5 separate regions of the Homo sapiens genome follow, and all the other regions are linked to region 1. Evidence: fine-mapped expression QTL. A gene starts in region 1. Each other region holds a variant in brackets. All regions are shown on one strand. Distances are from middle to middle.

Region 1 (4,119 bases):
TTTGGCCATTTTCACTTTATACGGTCATCAGTTTGTGCAGGACTTTTTCCAGCAAAGTTCAGGCCCACGGGTGCAGGTACAAAGAGGGCAAAAGGTTGACTTCATCCAGAGTAAGAGTTTTGTCAGAAAAAAGTGCAGGAAGGGACAAGAGAATTTTTCAAAGGAACGACATACATTCTGGATAAGGGGGTGCAGTGGATAGAAAATGGAAAGATCAATGCAATGGAGGTATAGATGAAGGTCAAGAATTGTCTCCCTGGTAGAAAGTGGTCAGATAGTAGGAGGCTATAATTTGTTTCTTCTGCTTGGAATGGGCATCTCCCCCTTCAGCAAACTGTTTGACCCCTAAATACATCCATCCTTTTCTGCTCCCTGACTTCCTGAACCCCAGCACCACTCCCTGAGTTTGTCACCATCTCATCCAATCAGAAAGGCCCACCTCAGCGGATCACAAGGTCAAGAGAGCGAGACCATCCTGGCCAACATGGTGAAACCCCGTCTCTACTAAAAATACAAAAATTAGCTGGGCGTGGTGGCACGCTTGTAGTCCCAGCTGCTTGGGACGCTGAGGCAGAAGAATTGCTTGAACCTGGGAGGTGGAGGTTGCAGTGAGCCAAAATCGCGCCACTGCACTCCAGCCTGGTGACAGAGCGAGACTCCGTCTCAAAAAAAGAAAAAAAAAAAAAGAGAGAAAAGAAAAAGAAAGGCCGACCTCAAACTATTCGCTCCTTGAAGCATTTATGTTCTCCCCACTGAGATCCCTCCTCCTAACAACCCTCACAGAGTGTACTACTGGTAGAATAGTTCAGGTGACCACATAGTAAGTCATTCTTTTTCCTTTCTAGGCTCCTTTGGAAAAGGTATTGTTATAAATATTCAAAAGTCTCTGGATCCTGCGACAGTATTCAGAACACAGCCCTGCACGGTGCAATCATTCAATAAATAATAACAGGGATCTCAGGCTCATGGGCCTCCAAACCTCATCCCCACTTGCTAAACCAGGGTTCACTGAAATAGAATAAAAGCGCATAATCCCTGTTCACAAAAGTCTCAGATAACTTCCATTAATCTCAAAGGTTGCCTTCAATTTCACAAATTTAATTTTAATCCCCTCTAAACGTTCAAAACACCTCTATTTAGCTAATGATGGGCAAATATAAAACAAAACAAAACAAAAATAACACCCCATGCGTGAAACAGCACTCGTAGGCTACCCTACGACGATCAAAAATCTGGATGCCACAATTCGAGAAATGCCACGCTCACTAGAAAATATAGATTTTTCTTCATAGTCTAATGCAAGGCCAGAGAGACCTGGGTTGGGGCTAAGGCAAACGGCCCCACGAGGGGTGCCACGAGAGTCAACTGGCATTGGGTTTGTACTCAGGGTCGGACCTCAGCCTGGCACCTACCTTCCTCCCCTCCAGCCCCAGCCGCAACGATCACAGGAGTGGTCGCCTCGGAGCCTGCTGCCATGGCTACCGCAAGGCGGGTTCTGCCGGAACCCAAGGCGGAGCGGAGCTGGGGTGGGGTCAGAGTAGGGGCCAAACTCCGAGACCCGAAGCTGCACCACAGGAAGGAGCCCCGGCGACTCCCGCCCGGCTCCTACGGAAACGCCGGCTCTCACGTGGAGGTCACGTGACGGATGCTGGGCGGGACCACGCAGCTTTGTTTTGATACCCCGGGTGTGGAAATACAAACACGTGGTCTGAGTTGTGGCGCTTTTTACCTAACCCGGACCTTAGCGTTCTTTATTGTAGTCTTAGCTTCGTTTCTGTTTCTCCTTTTCTAGTCAGATCCTTCCTTTCCACCTCGGCTTTTCTCCACCCTAAAGGATTGGAGTTTTAGGGGAAGGTTTGCCGCTTAGTGGGGCTCCGGCGGTGGGATGGGTCTCTGCCGTGAGCTTTCGCGAGCCGCTCTTGGCAGCCTGGAATGCGAGGCTAGCTCACGCTTCTCTTACACCTCTCTTGCCCTTCTGGTGGTAACCTGACTCCTTCTGATTTTAGTGGCTGCCGGGAAATACGAACCTCGGGCAAAGAATCCTGTGATTGCGTTCCCTGTGACTCATTTCCCGATCCAGACAAGCCAAATTGCTTGACTTTAGGTTTTCAAGGACACTAATCCACAGCTGTCAGGCTTCTGAATTTGTATACCAAAATAAACAAACAGCTGTGTGAAGAGATCAACAACCACCTTTCTTCTCGTTTACCCTGTGGTCAAATCATAATCACTGGAGATGGATCTTTGGGGCAAAAATCTTCCAACTTTACTGGACATACCTTTATTGCTCGCCTATTGGCAGGCGAAATGGGTAAAGTTTACATATATATGAATGAAATTGGCTAGTTTGGAATCTCCTCTTTGGATATGTAAGACAAAAAAGTAACAAAAATAGGTAGTACTTATTGCACGTAAGAAATGATTTTTATGAGATAATCCCCTGGGACCAACTACGCTTAAACTTTATCCTTCGCCTATAATTTCTGAAGTTACTAACTCAACAAAAATGAGAATAAGCCCAAAATAGAAGCAAGCATCAGGTTAACTGACGTCACTTAACAGGTCACTGAGTTGTTTATTAGGCACAAGATTTAACTTGGACACTTCCTCCAAACACCCCAGGGTTCCTTGCCCAACCTCCTCGAATACAGCCTCTCTGGGAGTTTCCCTCTCCCCGACTCAGCCGCGCTGGTCCCTGCCTTTTCAGCGCTACCTGCCCTCCGTCTGGGACCTGGCTCCTTTCCTCTCGCCGGTGTTTCCTCGCCACCCGCGGAGGGGAGGGCGGACCCCAGCCTCCTTGCCGCCTGCCCCGCCTCCCCGCCTCCCCGCCGGCCCGGCTCGGGCCGCGCAGGCGCACCAGGCGCGGTCCGGAGGCCGAGGGCGACCACAGCAGCCTCCGCCTCCTGCTGCTCAGGACTATTCTGCGCTGGGCTAGTCGGCGGTGACCCGGACTGCGCCCGGCAGTGGCTTCGCGGGCGACGCGTCGCCATGGGCTCTCGCTGGAGCAGCGAAGAGGAGAGGCAGCCGCTGCTGGGGCCCGGGCTCGGGCCTGGGCTGGGGGCCTCCTGGAGAAGCCGGGAGGCGGCGGCGGCGGCGCTGCCCGCGGCGGTCCCGGGTCCCGGGCGGGTATACGGGCGCCGCTGGCTGGTGCTGCTGCTCTTCTCGCTGCTGGCGTTCGTTCAGGGCCTGGTCTGGAACACCTGGGGTCCCATCCAGAACTCGGCGCGCCAGGCCTACGGCTTCTCCAGCTGGGACATCGCGCTGCTCGTGCTGTGGGGGCCCATCGGCTTCCTGCCCTGCTTCGCGTTCATGTGGCTCCTGGACAAGAGAGGTGAGGGGTCGCGGAGCGCCAGCCCGCGCTGTCTCTCCTCCGGGAGCAGGCGCCTGCCCGCGCTCCAGGCCTGCCAGCCGCCTCCCTTGGCCCCGGCATAGGGGTTGTGTGAGGTGATAGAGTGTTGCTAGCATTCCATTTCTGACTTAGGAACCCTCCGTCCCCAAAGCGACAAATATGGAAAGGCAACCTTGCAAATATTTATGTTTTTTATCAAGGCCCTTTATGCAACACCAGGGATTTAAGCGATCTCTAAACGTTCAAGTTTTTACACATTGTGAACATCAGAGCATCCCCGTGCACGTGCGGTGTATGTGTTTTACACCTGACAAAAATGACTGATGCTTTGACTTCAAAGGGATATGGGGATGTTGAGGATGAAAGGTCGGAAAATAGATTGACGGTGCCCATATGTAAGGAAATAATGAGTTCGTTTTGTGTAATAGATGACTCCAGCCCAGGAAGAGCTATTGGGAAACTCAGATCTGACACTTTGGTTTCTGGAAGGTGGTGCTCGGCAGCTTTAAAATGTGTGTATGTGACTAGATGGCTTTCTCAGTTGAGATTTGTGACTTTCAATTAAAGCTTGCAGATGAGTGAAGATGCTTGCTTAGAATGGTACCCTGGACATCTCACTTTACCACTTGCCAGTGTGATTCTCTGAGAAGAAAAAGCCATAGGGCTGAGAATCAAGGCATACTTACCACATAAGTATGGATAAATGATTAGTAGTGACAGTCTACCCTCAAGAGGCTGTTGTGCAAGATTTTATATTTATTAATTGAATA
Region 2 (4,119 bases), 93 kb after region 1:
TATTGTGGTTAATGTAGGTGTTTCACAGACCTGCTTATGTACCATCAAGCTTTATCATATTCTAAAGTTCAAAAGTGAGTTCCAATATGCATTATTGAGTTGAGTTCCAATATGCACTATTGTGTTTTCTTACTGGAAATACAATTTCTGTTCTTAACACCATCAACTAAGCTCCCTGTACTGTGAGAAAAGAAAGTGAGTAACCGACCTATGAAATCCATATAGATTTCCTCCACAGGACTTTCTTGGCTTCCCTGTCTCTGCAGAGGCACACAATATTATAGAAAACAGAAGCCAAAAGAATAATCTTGTGCAATTTTTTTTTTTTTTTTTAGACAGGGTCTCACTTTGTCATTCAGGCTTGAGTGCCCTGGTGTGATCTCAGCCCACTGCAGCCTCAATCTTCCAGGCTCAAGCAAGCCTCCAGCCTCAGCCCCCCAAGTAGCTGGGACTACAGGTGTATACCACCATGCCAGCTAATTTTTTATATTTTTCGTAGAGATGGGGTTTCACCATGTTGCCCAGCCTGGCTTGTGCAATTTCGTTTTTTGAAAAAATAGCTAATGGAGATTCTGATAATTCTTATTGTTTCCTGGTCAACTTCTGTGTCTTTCCTAATTTTCAAGCTGTCAGTAGAAATGATGAACTGTAGCAGGCCAGAAGCTCAGCTTCATTTGGTCACTTTTTCCTTTCCTGTCTTCTTGCCCATCCAGCTTTCCCCTTTCTGATGGTGTCTTCTTATTTCTGACAATGCTTGGGAGCGAGCTGTGTGACACCCAGATTTTACGAGTTGCCAGCGGTGGAGAGGAGAGAGCCGGGCATGCAGATTCTTCATGGACCCTACTAGAGAGGACAGAGAAAAAGAGCACTGGTGTAGGAGCCCACGGGTCTGGCTCTTAACCCTGGCCTGGTGACTTCAGCTATTTGACCTTGAGCAAGTCACTTCATTTCTCCTTTAGCAACATCTCTAAAATGAGGGAGTGAGCAAAAATGTTCCCTTAGATTTCTTCTAATTCAGAAATACCAGTTGATTCTTATTTAAATATGAACATGACCAAAGCATGTGCAGTCTGTAAAGCTGGAGAGGTGCCCAGCACCTTGGTGTTTCCATTTGTGCGGTAGCCCCCCTCATGTGAGCCCTGTACGTGAACATATGAAATCTTATGCTGCATCCACATTCAATAAGAAGAAATTGCTTTTTCAGTGTCTGTGGGAGGAGATAAGCTGCAGGTGCTGTTTATTTTCCCAAAGGACTTTATATATGAAACACAGGGTTTATTAAATGTATCAAATGCAATAAGAGAAAAATCTGTCATCTGATGTTGAGATAGCATACTGGGAGCCAGGTCGGGGTACTGCATTTGCTCACCAGAATCAGATCAAACGAGATACGAGTCCTTTGGTTTGATTGGATTCATCATGAGGCAGCATGGGTTTGCACTTGTAGAAATCAAAACTGTTAGGTCAGGTAGTAAAGCCAATCCTTGAACTTACATCTTTAGTTAAGGCATCAAAGAATTGTAAGTTGCTTTGCAATGATGCCATCTCCACATGGTCAGATTCTTCCAGTAAACTGTGCAGATATTTTACAGAATAAGAGCTAAGTTTCAGCATGTCAAGGAATGATCTGTACTCAAGTGTTAGTAAACAAGGGTTTTTTTGTTTGTTTGTTTGTTTTGAGACAGTCTCTGTCATCCAGGCTGGAGTGCAGTGGCATGATCATAGCTCACTGTATCCTCAGACTACTGGGCTCAAGTGATCTTCCTGCCTCAGCCTCCTGCGTAGCTAAGACTACAAGCGCATGCCACCACCCCTGGCTAATTTTTTATTTTTTATGGAGAAGGGGTCTCACTATGTTCCCCCAAGCTGGTCTTGAACTCCTGGACTTAAGCAATCCTCCCACCTCAGCTTCCCAAAGAGTTGGGATTAAAGGCGTGAGCCCCCATGTCCGGCCAACAAGACTTCCTCGTGACTATAATGTGAGCATAATATTAATAGCTCTGAGAGAGAGAAGTGAACCAGAAGACCAACCTCAGTGTCAGGAAGTCTGGGCGTCTGTCTTCTGCATGGCTGAAGACATGGGGCTTTGGGCAAGTCATCTGTTCTCTTTGAACTTTGGCTTCCTCACTTCTGAAATAGGAGGGTCAGAGAAGATGTTTCTTTTTGCTGAAAAGTTTTACAGTTCTCTGATCTATACCCCTTGGTCACACACAACCAAAAAGTAGAAAACATGAGTGCAATACTTTTCCACCAGTACTCCCAGTTTATACATTATCTTCTCAAACCAATAAGGAACTTCTACAAGGCCCTGTTAGTGATGTGTTACAGGTGCCAGCATTAGGGAAACTTTCAGACTGTTATATCTATTCGTTCCTTCATCCATGTATACTATTCATTCTGTATGCAGAGTAATTTATATATGTACAATTACATGGCAGTGAAAGATAATCAGAAAAATGAA[G/GA]TTTTTTTTTTTTTTTTGAGATAGTTTTGAGACAGAGTCTTGCTCTGTTTCCCAGGCTGGAGTGCAGTGGTGTGATCTTGGCTCACTGCAACCTCCGCCTCCCGGGTTCAAGGGATTCTCGTGCCTCATCCTCCCGAGTAGCTGGGACTACAGACATGCGCCACCATACCCAGCTAATTTTTGTATTTTTAGTAGAGATGGGGTTTTGCCATGTTGGCCAGGCCATTCTCGAACTCCTGGCCTCAAGCGATCCTCCTGCCGGCTTCCCAAAGTACCGGGATTCCAGGCATGAGCCACCATGCCCAGTCAGAAGGTTTTTTTTTAAAAAACACACTCCTGAACTAACAATTACAAAGAGCTAGTGACAATTTCCCAAATAATTATGCATAACAGGAGCCCATATATTGTTCTCAAATCATAAACCATAACTGATTTTGAGGAAAAGACATTCTGTCCCACTGATATTCTTTTCATGAGTAAGATCTGGATCTGTCTGGAGGCACAGAATTAATTTTTGCATGAGGAATCCCAACCCTACCATCATTCCATGGCTGAGGAATTGGTTATTACTCCTATGGGAAATTGGGAATGTTGTTGGTACCCCAGCCTTCTCTTAAGACAAAATTTAACAAATGCATACATGCTAAGATGCTTATACTCATAAGGCTTTGTGGGTCTCCTTTCTAAGGGGAATTTGAATACTAACAAGAACAAAGGCTAAATACCAAAAGGGGGCTTTCTAATGGTAGAATTTGGGATATCAGGTAGCCACATAGAGCAGGGCTACTTTGGGGGCTGGAGACTGCAGAAACCCTTCAGTTTATACGTGTGAGTAAACCTAATCACACTTGATGTATTGCTAGTGAAGTCCCAGCCCCCTGAGCCTTTGCAGAAACCCAAAGAATGCTAAAAAGGGCAGGTTTTAGTTCCTGCCAATTATTTCATTTACTACAAATGCCCCGAGTTCCGAATTTACTTCCCTCCCCACCAGAAATATGTCATTTTGGAGGCTTGTGAAAATTAAGCATTAAGAAAATCCCGCCTCCATCCTAATACACTGCATCCACAAGTCCCAAACAAAATCACTTCCTTGGCCTACACACATAACTACCTGTTTCTGTTTAGGTCTGTGACTCAGAAAGTGCCTGGAAGAAGTCATGAGAGGGAGTCGATCCCATCTTACCTGCCATAGGAAGAATAGGGCCTGCTCAGTAGAGTTCAGTGTGTGTGTTGAAGGTGGTGGTTCTTAGTCCTTCCCTGAATTCACTAATTCGCATTGCACTCACTCTTCCTGATCAATGAGTTATTGCTGAGAAATCATTGTAGTAAGTAATACAGGTATCCCCAGTAAAGCCATCCCTCTCCTCCATACCTCCGCTGTCCCTTGGGTTTTGGCTCCAGGATCCTTGCCCCATGTCCCAAAGAATCCCTACCTTGGGCCTCCCTCCTCCTCTTTTGTCAATTGCACTTGACCTTTTCAGGAAAAAGAAATCAATTGATACCTTAGTCCTAATGTTTGACCCTTTTCTATCTCAGAATAGAGAAGTCCCTGTATTTGTTCTTTTTTTACTCAAGTTTAATATAGACCACCTAGGCACAGAAGCTCCGTGCTATATTCTGTTGCCTGTAATTGTCCTTCCATCTAATTGGGAAAAGGT
Region 3 (4,119 bases), 110 kb before region 1:
GAAAAGATTTCAGTCTTCCTGCTGGGCTTCCATCCTTGACCGGCCCCAGCCCACTACTCCTCTTCCTCCACCCCCAGGCTGCTCCAGTGGCCCCTCTTGTCTTACCCCCCAGCACAGATGACCCAAAACTTATTAAAACTCAAAACCGGCCGGGCGTGGTGGCTCACGCCTGTTAATCCCAGCACTTTGGGAGGCTGAGGCAGGTGGATGACGAGTTGAGGAGATCGAGACCATCCTTGAGCAACATGGTGAAACCCTGTCTCTACTAAAACACACAAAAAAATTAGCCGAGCGTGGTGGTGTGCGCCTATAGTCCCAGCTACTCAGGAGGCTGAGGCAGGGGAATTGCTTGAACCAGGGAGGCAGAGGTTGCAGTGAGGTGAGATCGCACCACTGCACTCCAGCCTGGCAACAGAGCAAGACTCCATCTAAAACAAAACAAAAACAAACAAACAAAAAGAAACAAACAAACAAAAACAAACTCGAAACCTAGTATGGTCTAAGTTCTTGGGGGTGGAAAATCCCTAGTCAGTTTCAGTTTCCTACTTGAGGAACCACTTTCTCAGTAACAAGGGTCAGGAATTTGCTAACAATGAATGACCTACGCTTGAAGTCCCAGAAGTGCATTCTTCTTCTGCAGAGGACACTCTCCACCCTCCATGCCAGGAAGTGGCCTCAACAGGTGCGGGCCCATAGCATAACCTGATTTGATTCATATAAACTGTAATAGGCAGATAACAAGAATGAGCCCACCAGCACTTCTCCGTATTTATTCATGTATAGCAAATAGAAACAAATGGGAAGCTGTATCTCACTTTTATATAGTTCACTGGATTTCTGAAAAGTTGGTGTAAATTGACATAACATTTTAAGCCCTGTTTCAGATGTGTCTATTTTATCATACTTTACCAACATAGTTTGGTTCCTGGTTGTTGTCGGGTTCCTTGTGGTAAGAACCCATCTTCTCCTTAAATAAAATTAAATGTTGATGATCTAAAGTTGGTGCAGGTGGAAGACTGTCCACTTGGGTAAGGGAGGTTGGACATCAGAGTTTCAGCTTTTTCCTCCCAGATTGACTTTCTCCTTTTTGGAGATCATATACCCATATTATTACCAACTGTTCTCCTGAAATACTTGTGCCCATAAATATTGCCCACAATCTGAGAACAGACTGGCACATTTAGATGCCTAGACAGGACTTTATCAAAGTCTAGGGAATAAGAAAAGGACTGTAACACAGAGGTCCATGACTCTAAATAACTTGACTTACAAAATTTAGCTTGTTGTCAGGCTGCAGGGGTCCTATCCAGTCCTCAATCCCCACCTTGGTTTAGTAAAGCCCTTCAGGAGTTTGTGTGGAAACATCTGCCCTCCTCATAAAGAGTGAGATTAGAAGCTGGCGTTCCTTCTCAGGTTGTTTCTGAGGCCTATTTCTGAGTTGGCATCCAATTAAGACCCCACTTCCTCCACCCTCTTCACAGAGGGTTGAGGTGGGAAAGCTATCATGCTCCTATTCATGAAAGATTCTGATCTATATCCTTGGCCTCATCAGGCCAGCCATATCAGAACACAGCATAGTGACCCAACATTCATGCTAGAGCTACACCTGTGACCTGTAGGGCACTCTCAAAAACTCCTTTTTTCCCTGACCTCTTTGTACTATCTGACTATGTTGATCATGCCTCCTCCTTGAAACTCACTTCTTCCCGTTCTTCATGGACTGAGATATGCTGATTTTCTTCATATCTCTCTGGCTGCTCCTTTTTATAATCGTAACTCACATCTGCGTAGTTCTTGAGGATGTTACAGTGTGCATTCATGGACACCACTTTAAGTGAGGAAACTGAGAGTTGAGAGAAGTTAAGGTATTCACTCAGCTATTTGTGGTAGAGTTGGAATTCAAATCCAGATCTTTGGACTCTATGTCCACTGTTCAGTTGTTTCACTACAGCCAAGCTGCCTGATATGCTAATCTATTAATTTGTTCATTTTTTTTTTTGCAAAAATCTC[C/T]CCCTTCTTTTATACTCCTTTTACTATCAGATGTGAGACCTGTTTCTAACTAGGCTCCTGCTTACAGCCACCTAGCCACCTTCCTAAAACGTGACTTTCATCATGGCATGTCCCAGTACCCAATCTTCACTGGCTCCCATTGAAGGATGCTTTAATTTAATTCACTTCAATATAGAATAAATATTGCTACCTTTTGAGTACCTCCTGAGTGTCAGGTCCTGTACCAAGTTCTTTATAATGTTTCTTCAATTTAATACACGTGGCACTCATACAAAACAGTCTCCATTAACCTTACAAATAGACAAGAAAACTGAGGCCTTATAAGTATGGCTTATTAGGGAACATGCTCAATATTAAAAAGTCAGTTTAAGGAAGAAATTCAAATCCATGTTTGCTTGCTAAACTTTTCCTCTTTTACTTCACATATAGCCTCTCTTGAGAAACCGACCAAGCCATTGATTGATGGTAATGCAGCCCACGGAAATCATAGAATAATTTTGTAAATAAAGATTGCTTGTCATTTGTCTTTTTTCCCCCCTTTGGACATTTCAGTTCGGCAGAAGGTTCTGGAGAGAAAAAATCATGAGTTGGTATGGCAAGGAAAAGGAACATTCAAGTTAACTGTCCAGTTACCTGCAACCCCAGATGAAATCGATCATGTCTTTGAAGAGGAACTTCTAACAAAAGCAAGTAAACTTTAGGCATGAATAAAAGGGATTTAGGTCTCCCAAGGTGTGTGAGATGGGAATCACCATGAAGAAAATATAGTGGAAAGAAAAGCATGAAGCAAACTGCAGCGAGAAAAGCAGATTACAAATGTAGGGGGAGTGAGGGCAGTGGTAGGGTAGGGTAGTATGGGATAAAGTAGGAGGGGGTACTTTTTTTTTTTTTTTTTGAGACGGAGTCTCGCTCTGTCAACCAGGCTGGAGTACAGTGGTATAATCTTGGCTCACTGCAACCTCTGCCTCCTGGGTTCAAGTGATTCTTCTGCCTTAGCCTCCTGAGTAGCTGTGACTACAGGCATATGCCACTATGCCCAGATAATTTTTATATTTTTAGTAGAGACGGGGTTTCACCATATTGGCCAGGCTGGTATCAAACTCCTGACCTCATGATCGGCCCACCTAGGCCTCCCAAAGTGCTGGGATTACAGTCATGAGCCACCGCACCCTGCTGGGGGTACTTTTTATGTGATTTTAGACACATTTGGAAAAGCCAAGATTTGGGGATTATAATAATGGTGGTTTTGGATGTAAAATTTGGGGTCTGTGTCTCCAGAGTTCTTTATAACCTGTAACCTGTTATATTTGTTTTATTTTCTATGTCATTTTGAGGAGACAGCAATCCATACTACCTGTATTAAGTATTACCCCAATTGTAAAATGGAATAGTAACATTAATGATCCAACAACAGATTGCAGGATTATTGTGAGGGTTGAACAAGATGATCTGTATAAAGCACATGACACAGTTCTTGTTATATATAATAAACACTCAGTAAATGTTTTATTTGTATTTGTTTTATTTATTTCTTTTTTAGAGGCAGGGTCTCACTCTGTTGCCCAGGCTGGAGTGCAGTGGCATGATCATGGCTTGCTGCCTCCTTGACCTCCTGGGCTTAGGTGATCCTCCTACCTCAGCCTCCCCAGTAGCTGGGACTGTAGGCACATGCCACCACACCTGGCTAATTTTTTGTATTTTTTGTAGAGTCGGGGTTTTACCATGTTGCCTAGGCTGCTCTTGAACTGCTGGGCTCATGTGATCCACTTGCCTTGGCCTCCCAAAGTGCTGGGATTACAGGTGTGAGCCACCACACCCGTCCTTAATTTAATTTTTATCTTTTTTAGAGACTGCTTTCATCTGTATCCCAGGCTGGAGTGCAGTGGCACCACCATAGCTCACTGTAATCTTGAACTCCTGGGCTCAAGTGATCCTCCTGCCTCAGCCTCCCAAGTAGCTGGGACTACAGGCATGCATCACTATGCCTGGCTAATTTTTTTTCCTAATTTTTTTTTGTAGAGATGGGGTCTCACTATGTTGCCCAGGCTGGCCTTGAACTCCTGGCCTCAAGCGATCCTCCCACACTGGCCTCCCAAAATGCTGAAATTA
Region 4 (4,119 bases), 41 kb before region 1:
TAAGTAATTATCTATGTTAGACAGCTAACAAAGGTAACCTGTATCTTAAAGTTGCCTGATTCCAAAGTCTATGGCCAGAATGGTAAAAAGTCTGGAAAAAGGAAAAAATCACCCATAAAAACACCCCATTAAAGAAAGTAAGAGGTTTTGAGCATGGAAGAAGAAAAGATTATGGAAAAACTTGGAGGTATTTTCAAATATTTTAAAAAGATGACAGCTCTACTCTTTAACAACAAGCGAACTTCCTTGGGAGGTGAAGCACCTGTCAGGGCTATTGTAGATATGACTTTGGCATTGGGAGTGGAAGTTCTCCATGGATTCTACCTTGACATCTGCTGCAACTCCAGTTCAGCATGCTATAGGCGAAATTTCTGTGACGCTACTGATCTCCTGCCATACCTCTCACTTAAGCCTCAAGGGCTACAACTCTTCACTAAGCCCACACAACATAGCTTTCTGTAACAATATTCCTTCTGTTCCACTGATTCCAAAGCCATTCCTATTAGCAAAGGATAGGAAAAACTAGACTAGGGAGAGGATACGGCTGTCAAACAGAGCAGAAAGATGCAATCCAGGCTTCAGGTCAAGGAGAGCAGAGATGCAGTCAGGGCCTCTGGTTAAAGAGAGGCAGCTGCAATTAAGGCCCCAGTTGAAGAGACAGACTTGAGCATAACAAGCAGCTATTCTAATTGTCAAATAGAGCAGGCAACCAGGATTAAGCTTAACACATCAGAGGGAAAGGCTTCTGGCAGAAATGAAATGATAAAAACCTAGCACTGAAAGAAAGACTCCGCTTTGAGAATATGTAGAAGCCAAGACAGAATTCTGCAATTAGTAATGACCCTGAACCAAGAAGCAGGTATTTCCAGCCCAGATGGTGTGAAAGAGGAGCGGCAACAAGGGACACATATCGGCAAATCTGGCCAGGCCCAATACAATTTTCCTAACAACACTGGTCAAGGGAAAGGACCCTGCATGCCAGCATCAGGCGCATTCTGTGTCCTTAAAAGAAAGAGAGTGGCACACCACTAAAATTCCAATTTCCAACCTAAACATCCATTAACAGAAGACAGAATGCATACGTTATAGTGCACTGCAACAAAAAAATACTGAAGCATTGGTTAAAAAAAATTAATTACCCAGTTGTACAGCCAGACCTTATATATCTTTTAAAAGCATGATTTGCACTTACTTAAAAAAAAAAAAAAAACAACGAAAAAGTACCAGTTCAATCCATGAGTTTATACTGACAGTGACAGGATCAATGGATTCTACGTAATGCCACCAGTGTCTGGGAACAAAGAGAACCTGAAAACCAAACAAAGAATGGTTAGCACAAGAACAGGACGTTTCATTTTTATGTCAGAATCAGACCCTAATTGAGGCTGCTAGGAAAAAAAGGAATACAAATGAATTCACAATAATATTGCTGGAGAAAAGTAAAGTAAGAAAAAAAACCCCGCAAACCTTTTTTCCTTTTATTCCTTTTTTATTGACAAGTTCACATGTTCTACAAAGGATACTGCCAGCATCTCTATTCTCTTTAATCCTGGGCCTTCTTTGTCTGCACCTAAATCTTAGTACATGATTCTGAGATTCTAATTTTTCCTCCTTTCCGTCACAAAATAGTTGCGTGCATTCTGAGAAAGGGCATAGGTAAAACACATAGGACGTGGCTTCTGTTTTCTCACAGCTCAAAATCTAGCCAATGAGAAGATAAAGTATAGAAAGGTGGCATTATAGAAGTGGTAAATCAGGGGACAATGGTGTTTCAGAATTTCAGAGGTGGGTGAAACAGGCATGAACTAGGGAGGTCAGGGGCAACATGGA[TGGAA/T]GAAGTGTGATTTGAACCCGGGCTAGGAGAGAATTTAGACACAGAAAGAATGAGGACATGCCAGGAAGGATAAGAGGTACAGGTGAGGGAGGTAGGACTACAGAAGATAGCAAGTAGGTCAGTCTTACTATCACAGAGGGAATAATGGGAGATAAGGTAGGGGAATTAGTTTAGGGACAGCGGACTTCAGAATCTAGATTTTATCTGGTAGGCACTAGGAGTTGTTGAGAAATTCTAAGTAGGGGGATGGTTAAAATAGTGGTATCGAGAGAGTCTGAGAAGGACAGGAGATACTTGCAAAGGTCCACTTATTAAACGTTAAGATATAAATAGGAAGGTATAATAAACAAAAGCAATGGGCAGAGTCAAGAAGGATGGCATCTATCCAGACTCAGTATGAGATTTCCTATTAAGAGCAGAGTAGATGGAAATGATGTGAAGCTTTTGGGCTTCACATTAGGAAACTACTGGTATTTGCTGTGAACAAGGCAGGACTGGGAAATAGAAAGAGAGATCCTTTCAGGAAAACTGGAAACTATAAAAGGCCACTTGATAGTCATTAGTAGGTTATGCATGTCCTATCAGAGTAAAGTTTCAGTAAAGTGGTGACAGAAAGAGCTGGGTTTGAGTGGATTAAAGAATGGATAGGATGTAAGGAAAACTGATACAATAGGCAAAACCAATCACTCAAATTTGGCTATTAAACACAGAAGAGAAAATGAATTGGCAACCACTTCACACTCTCTGGAATGGCTGTAAAAATAATGATAAAAAAGCAAAACAAGTGTTGGGAAAGATAAAAAGAAATTGGAACCCTCATACAATGCTGGTGGGAATGCAAAATAGTACAGCTGCTATGGAAAATAGTTTGACAACTCCTCAAAAAGTTAAACACAGGGTTACCATATAACCCAGCAATTCTACTCCTAGGTATACCCAAGAGTATTGAAAACATATGTACACACAAAACTTGTACATGAATGTTCAAAGTAGCATTACTTATAATAGCCAACAAAGCAGAAACAACCCAAATGTCCATCAACTGATGAACAGATAAACAAAATGTTGTATATCCATACAATGGAATATTATTCAGCCATAAAAAAGAAATGAAGTGCTAGTAACATTCTATGACGTGGATGACCCTTGAATACATTATGCTATGTGAAAGAAGTCAGACACAGAAGGCCCTGTATTATAATATTGCACTGTGTGAAATGTCCAGAATGGGCAAATCTAGAGATAGAAAAAGATTAGTTGTTGTCAGGGGCTGTGGGGAGAGGGGAATGCAGAGTGACTAACAGGTCGAGGCAACTCAGTCAAGTGAAATTGTTTGAGTTGATAGTACTTGAGTGAAGGAAGCAGGAAAAGAGCCAGTGAGACCGGTACAATGGATGGAAGACAGGCAAGGGAGAGGGATAATCGAGAGAATAAAATCTTCTTAAGTGACTAAGAAAACCTTTCAAATTATTAATGAAATATCAGACAGCAAGTGCCAATGTTGAAAAGGAAATTTTCCTCACTGGGAAGCAGCACTATGTACAGTACCTTTGGAAATGTTTCAGAGTTAGTAATTTATGAAAACAACATCCATTTTTGCTTAAAAGCAAACATTCTCGGTTCCTTCTGCCCGTTGGCCCACACCTGGAGGCATTCCGACCTGTGTTTATGTGTCTGGGTTCAGTGCTATCATAATTGAACAGATACTAACTGTGATTAAATGTTCCAGAGATGCTCGAGTACCCATGCCTTGAACATTTTCTCCTGACCTAAATGAAAATGACTCTTGTAGACTGTCTTCCTCCAAAGTCCATTCTCCTCTTTACCAATAGGAGGAGCTGTGTTCCCTCTTGCCATTTCCTTTCCAGGACCTGTGAAGCAGAGGTGTATGTGTCTGAAGCCTACAACTGGGGAAGCTACCTTCCAACAGCAGAGCAGAGGGAAGGAAGCCATTCTCATTTGCACTGCGCAGGGAGGGGAAGCACACAGCATAAGGACTTGAGAGAGTTACAGCTGTGGTGTCCCCTGGCAGGTCATTAATGTTTTAAAGCCCTATTACCTGTCCTGGGCTCAGTGTAACCGCATGTCTTTGAGCTTTCCGGAACTGAGGAAAACGCTTTAAATCAGGATTGACAACATTGATTTTACTGAACACACTAGATTCTTCATAAGGGATTCTAGTTGGATAAAGGAAAGGAGTATCTTCAGGAGGAAAGAGATGCCATCGTTTCCTAATTAAAAAAAAAAAAAAAAGATACAAGTTAGTACTCTGACCTTAAGACAAA
Region 5 (4,119 bases), 89 kb before region 1:
CAAGACATTCTTTCCCAGCTAGGCATGGTGGCTCATACCTGTAGTCCTTACTACTCGGAATGCTGAGGTGGGAGGATCACTTGAACCCTAGGAGTTTGAGGCTGCAGTGAACTATGATCATGCCACTGCCCTCCAGCCTGGGTGGACAGAGCAAGACCCTCTCTCTTAAAAAAAAAAAAAAAAACAAAAAAAAAAAACAAAAAACAAAAAACAGTCATAGTTTGCTTTCCTTTCACTCCCATAGATGCTTAGCTTCCATGGCTGTAATAACTGCTCTGCATTACTCCTTAGTGACCCAGGCAGGGCAGCTTTGAAAATCACTTGGTTACATTCCCTCTCCTCTGTTCTCTTGACCTCTCTAATCTAGCCCGATTAATCTGCTCACATTCACTGATGAAAAAGCTTCCGGGGCTGCTCCCTTTCTGTCAGGGAGTCCAGATGTCTTGGCACTCGAGGTGGGCCCCCTAGTTTACCCCCAGTGTAACATTTCTAGCCTGGAGCATACCATTTTGCTGCAGAAGCTCTCTCAGATCAAATTAATCTGTTCACAGCTCACAACCCACCATGCCTATGTTCATGCTGCTCCCTGTCTTGCTCTGCCTGCTGAAATTCTTCCCATTTCTCAAACCCCACATTGCCCATGGTATCTTCACTAGTTACTGAAACAGCTTTCTCTGGACTCCTTCAGTGATGCCATACCATTCATAGATTACTTTTTGACTGCTCTCTTTTTTTCCTAAGTGTCACTTCAATAAGTATTTAGTCACACTTTGTCTTATGTTGATATTTCAATCACTGAAACCGTAGTCATCTTAGTTGTCTCCAATTGTGCCAAGCCCAGTGCCTCAAATATAGTAATCATTGATGAATGCTTTTTGTTAAAATTTGAAACAAATTTTTGGTTTTGTCTTTAAGACCGATGTTGTTGTCAACTCCGTTCCCTTGGATCTCGTGCTTAGTAGAGGGCCTCTTTCTAAGTCCCTCTTGGAAAAAGCTGGACCAGAGCTCCAGGAGGAATTGGACACAGTTGGACAAGGGGTGGCTGTCAGCATGGGCACAGTGCTCAAAACCAGCAGCTGGAATCTGGACTGTCGCTATGTGCTTCACGTGGTAGCTCCGGAGTGGAGAAATGGTAGCACATCTTCACTCAAGGTTGGGCCTGGTTTTGAATTCTCCATGAAGTTGGGTAGCCCTTTGGGTTCTCCTTTTAGTAGCATATTAATTGGACATAGATTGGGCCTTGTCTGTTTCTCTTCCATAATAATCACTCTTTTGGCAGATTCCATCATGTGGCCATTTCTTTCAGCTGTAGCTGACTTCTCCTGAGGACTAGTTAATACTATAAATGGATTATTGTGCTCAATAATTATTGGAGCTCAGGGAAGGGTTACTGAAGATAATATTATTGCTTGCTTAGTGAAGAAAGCCAGAGGAGGGTGTGAAGAATGGAAGAGAATGAAGGAAAAGAACAGTAGTTGCTTTGCTTCTTTCCTTCATTGTGAATGTGTTTAAGTCTCTCGCATTCTCTTTTCCTTTTCCTTGCCTTCTCCTGTATTTTTCTTTCCTCTTCTGATTGCCCTTAATCAGTGTTGACAGCAAAAAGGAGTATTCAAGTTCACAAAGTTGCTAAATTCTTGTCCTTTTTGTTCTAACTCCCATTTCTAGACAAGATGTATAAGGATGTGCTTTGTGCGTTTCAGATAATGGAAGACATAATCAGAGAATGTATGGAGATCACTGAGAGCTTGTCCTTAAAATCAATTGCATTTCCAGCAATAGGAACAGGAAACTTGGGATTTCCTAAAAACATATTCGCTGAATTAATCATTTCAGAGGTGTTCAAATTTAGTAGCAAGAATCAGCTGAAAACTTTACAAGAGGTTCACTTTCTGCTGCACCCGAGTGATCATGAAAATATTCAGGTACAGTGCCACTAATTTCTGATTATTTTGGCAACTGAGACCTAGTGTTTTTTCAAATGTCTTTTTGGTCTAACAGGATACTTTTTTCATTCATTTCCCCATTCAGGAAAGTAAGAAGGTAGTTTATACTTGTAGTTGTAGTTGTAGCATGACAAATTTTAAGAAAAGTTACAGATGTAGAAAAAATTTAACTTCCTATTCAGGAAAATTTTGAACATATCCAAAAGTAGACATAATAGTATAATGCAGTCCCTTGTACCTATCACTGAACTTCAACAGTTATCAACCTATGGCCAATATGTTTCATCTCTATCTTCATCTATTTCCCTTCCTTCTATATT[C/A]TTTTGAAGCAAATCTCAGACATATCATTTTATCCATAAACAATTCAACATTTATTTTAAACAATAACAATTCTTTTTAAAAAAGTAACATAACCACAATATTGTATCACACCTAAAATAAATGGACAATAATTCCTTTAACCAATTATCAAATCAATTCTCAAATTTCTGACTATCTCATAAACGTTTTGTTTTTACAGCTTTGTGTTTGAATCAGAATCCAAATAAGGCCCACATATTGCAATGGAGTTGACTATAGGATTTCCCTCCATATGGACATAGAAATTTTAATACATAGTATAAAAGCACAGTCTGGCCTTATCAATAGGAAGATGTCAGAAGGTGTGGTTAGAATGGATTAGCACATTCCCATGTAAATAGGAGAGTTGGGACCAGAAACACCAGAACTATCATCAATCATGAGTTCATGATTCAGCTCACATCAGCTGTGGGAGAGCCACTGGACTCAGCATTATGGCAGCACAACAGGCTTTTAAGCCATTATCCCTGCACTCCGAGTCTTTACTTAATCAAATAAAGTAGATGACATTCAGTGTTTGAAAAGCTCCCAAGGTACTGCAAAAATTGATCAAACAGATTAAGATCAGCAACCCAAGAGATACCTGTGGATCATTGGACCATCTGAATTTTTAGGTAATGCTTCATTTTTCTGTGATGCTAGATACTACCTATAAGTTCTTTGGAAGCAAGTAAATCTGACCTGAATTCTGATCAGGCAGCCAAACCACCTGAGTAAAATATGTGGTCCATTTACTTGTCCCGTATAATTAGTTACTCTTCTGTGCAACAGAAGCTTTTAAAATAATTTCCCTATGACTTGCATTGTGCAAGGTGATGTGGATCGTGGAACAGGACGAATAGGAATAGCACATACTTTCCCTCCTATAAATCACAATTACTTTGGAGCTAAGATTTATATACACAAAATGAACTAAATGAGAGGCATGAAGTGCTGTTTTTGAATGCATGGGTGATTGAATACAGCATGAGTCCTGTGACACAGACCTGAACCTTCAAATATCACTCTTTTTCATGCAACCTCAGCATTCATTTTCTTTCCTGAAGACTGAGTATTTTTCAAATACTCTGTAAAAAGAATTAGTCTATACAGATGCCTTTAGTACCATTTGAAATTCTCTGTATGTGTCTGTTACACTTTTTCTCTTTAGACTTTTAAAGACAGTTAAACTTTGGTTACATTTGCACAAAAAAATCAGCAAAGCTTATCGAGATGTTTATAGATGGAGACTGTCACAGAGGATGCAAAGCAGCAGTCCTGTGATTTGAACATGGCCTCTAGATGTGCTTTATTTAGATTATTAAAAAAAAATTTCAATCAGTTGCTAACATTTAAAAATCAAAAATTTTACATAAAACTCTAGATATTCACTACAACCTAAAACTTCAAAACTTCTGGCACATTAAACATGGCTTCCTGCTTGGGACAGGAAGTTTTCCATGGCTGAGTGGCAGGTGTTCTCTAGTTCTCCATAGTCAAATCAGACCACCTTTACACATGTGCCTTACCTACCTGGCTCCTAGAAGCCTGTGAGTCTGAGATCTTTGCTCTACCCTCTCTCTGGTTCCTTCTCCCATTATTGCATCTATCTTTAGCCAAGATGTTACTTGTTTTTTTTCCAACAAAATTATCTGTTGCTTGTTTACAAGGAGGAAGAAAATGATGATTATGGAGGGTCACCAACAGGCAAAAAAAAAAAAAATGAAATTCACAGGTTTATTAACACTAGAATACATACACCAGCTACTTGCTCCAAAAATCATGACTCCTCAGCCCCTCCTCTTTTGGTACAAATAGGAAATTAAAAACGGAAGTG

The links.
Region 2: its variant is fine-mapped to the expression of HSPBAP1 in whole blood (INTERVAL, PIP above 0.99).
Region 3: its variant is fine-mapped to the expression of HSPBAP1 in thyroid (GTEx, PIP above 0.99).
Region 4: its variant is fine-mapped to the expression of HSPBAP1 in lung (TOPMed, PIP 0.96).
Region 5: its variant is fine-mapped to the expression of HSPBAP1 in whole blood (INTERVAL, PIP above 0.99).

The regions. Positions count from the first base shown.
Region 1 is chr3:122,792,205-122,796,323 of GRCh38, forward strand. It overlaps HSPBAP1 (HSPB1 associated protein 1), which reads right to left and starts at 1,627. Exons shown (of 8, transcript NM_024610.6): 1 at 1,413-1,627. The coding sequence starts at 1,476. It overlaps SLC49A4 (solute carrier family 49 member 4), which reads left to right and starts at 2,865. Exons shown (of 9, transcript NM_032839.3): 1 at 2,865-3,331. The coding sequence starts at 2,989. RefSeq lists a silencer at 2,702-3,191.
Region 2 is chr3:122,885,117-122,889,235 of GRCh38, forward strand. It overlaps LINC02035 (long intergenic non-protein coding RNA 2035), which reads left to right and starts at 1,397. Exons shown (of 1, transcript NR_024618.1): 1 at 1,397-4,119. The variant G/GA (reference allele first, on the strand shown) is at 2,462.
Region 3 is chr3:122,682,623-122,686,741 of GRCh38, forward strand. PARP14 (poly(ADP-ribose) polymerase family member 14) reads left to right here. Exons shown (of 17, transcript NM_017554.3): 2 at 2,563-2,696. Among named protein-coding and RNA genes, the nearest start is that of PARP14, 3.8 kb to the left of the region's middle. RefSeq lists enhancers at 341-420, 441-630. The variant C/T (reference allele first, on the strand shown) is at 2,011.
Region 4 is chr3:122,751,367-122,755,485 of GRCh38, forward strand. It overlaps HSPBAP1 (HSPB1 associated protein 1), which reads right to left. Exons shown (of 8, transcript NM_024610.6): 5 at 3,894-4,065; 6 at 1,225-1,308. Among named protein-coding and RNA genes, the nearest start is that of HSPBAP1, 40 kb to the right of the region's middle. The variant TGGAA/T (reference allele first, on the strand shown) is at 1,831.
Region 5 is chr3:122,702,827-122,706,945 of GRCh38, forward strand. PARP14 (poly(ADP-ribose) polymerase family member 14) reads left to right here. Exons shown (of 17, transcript NM_017554.3): 7 at 916-1,152; 8 at 1,701-1,922. Among named protein-coding and RNA genes, the nearest start is that of PARP14, 24 kb to the left of the region's middle. The variant C/A (reference allele first, on the strand shown) is at 2,264.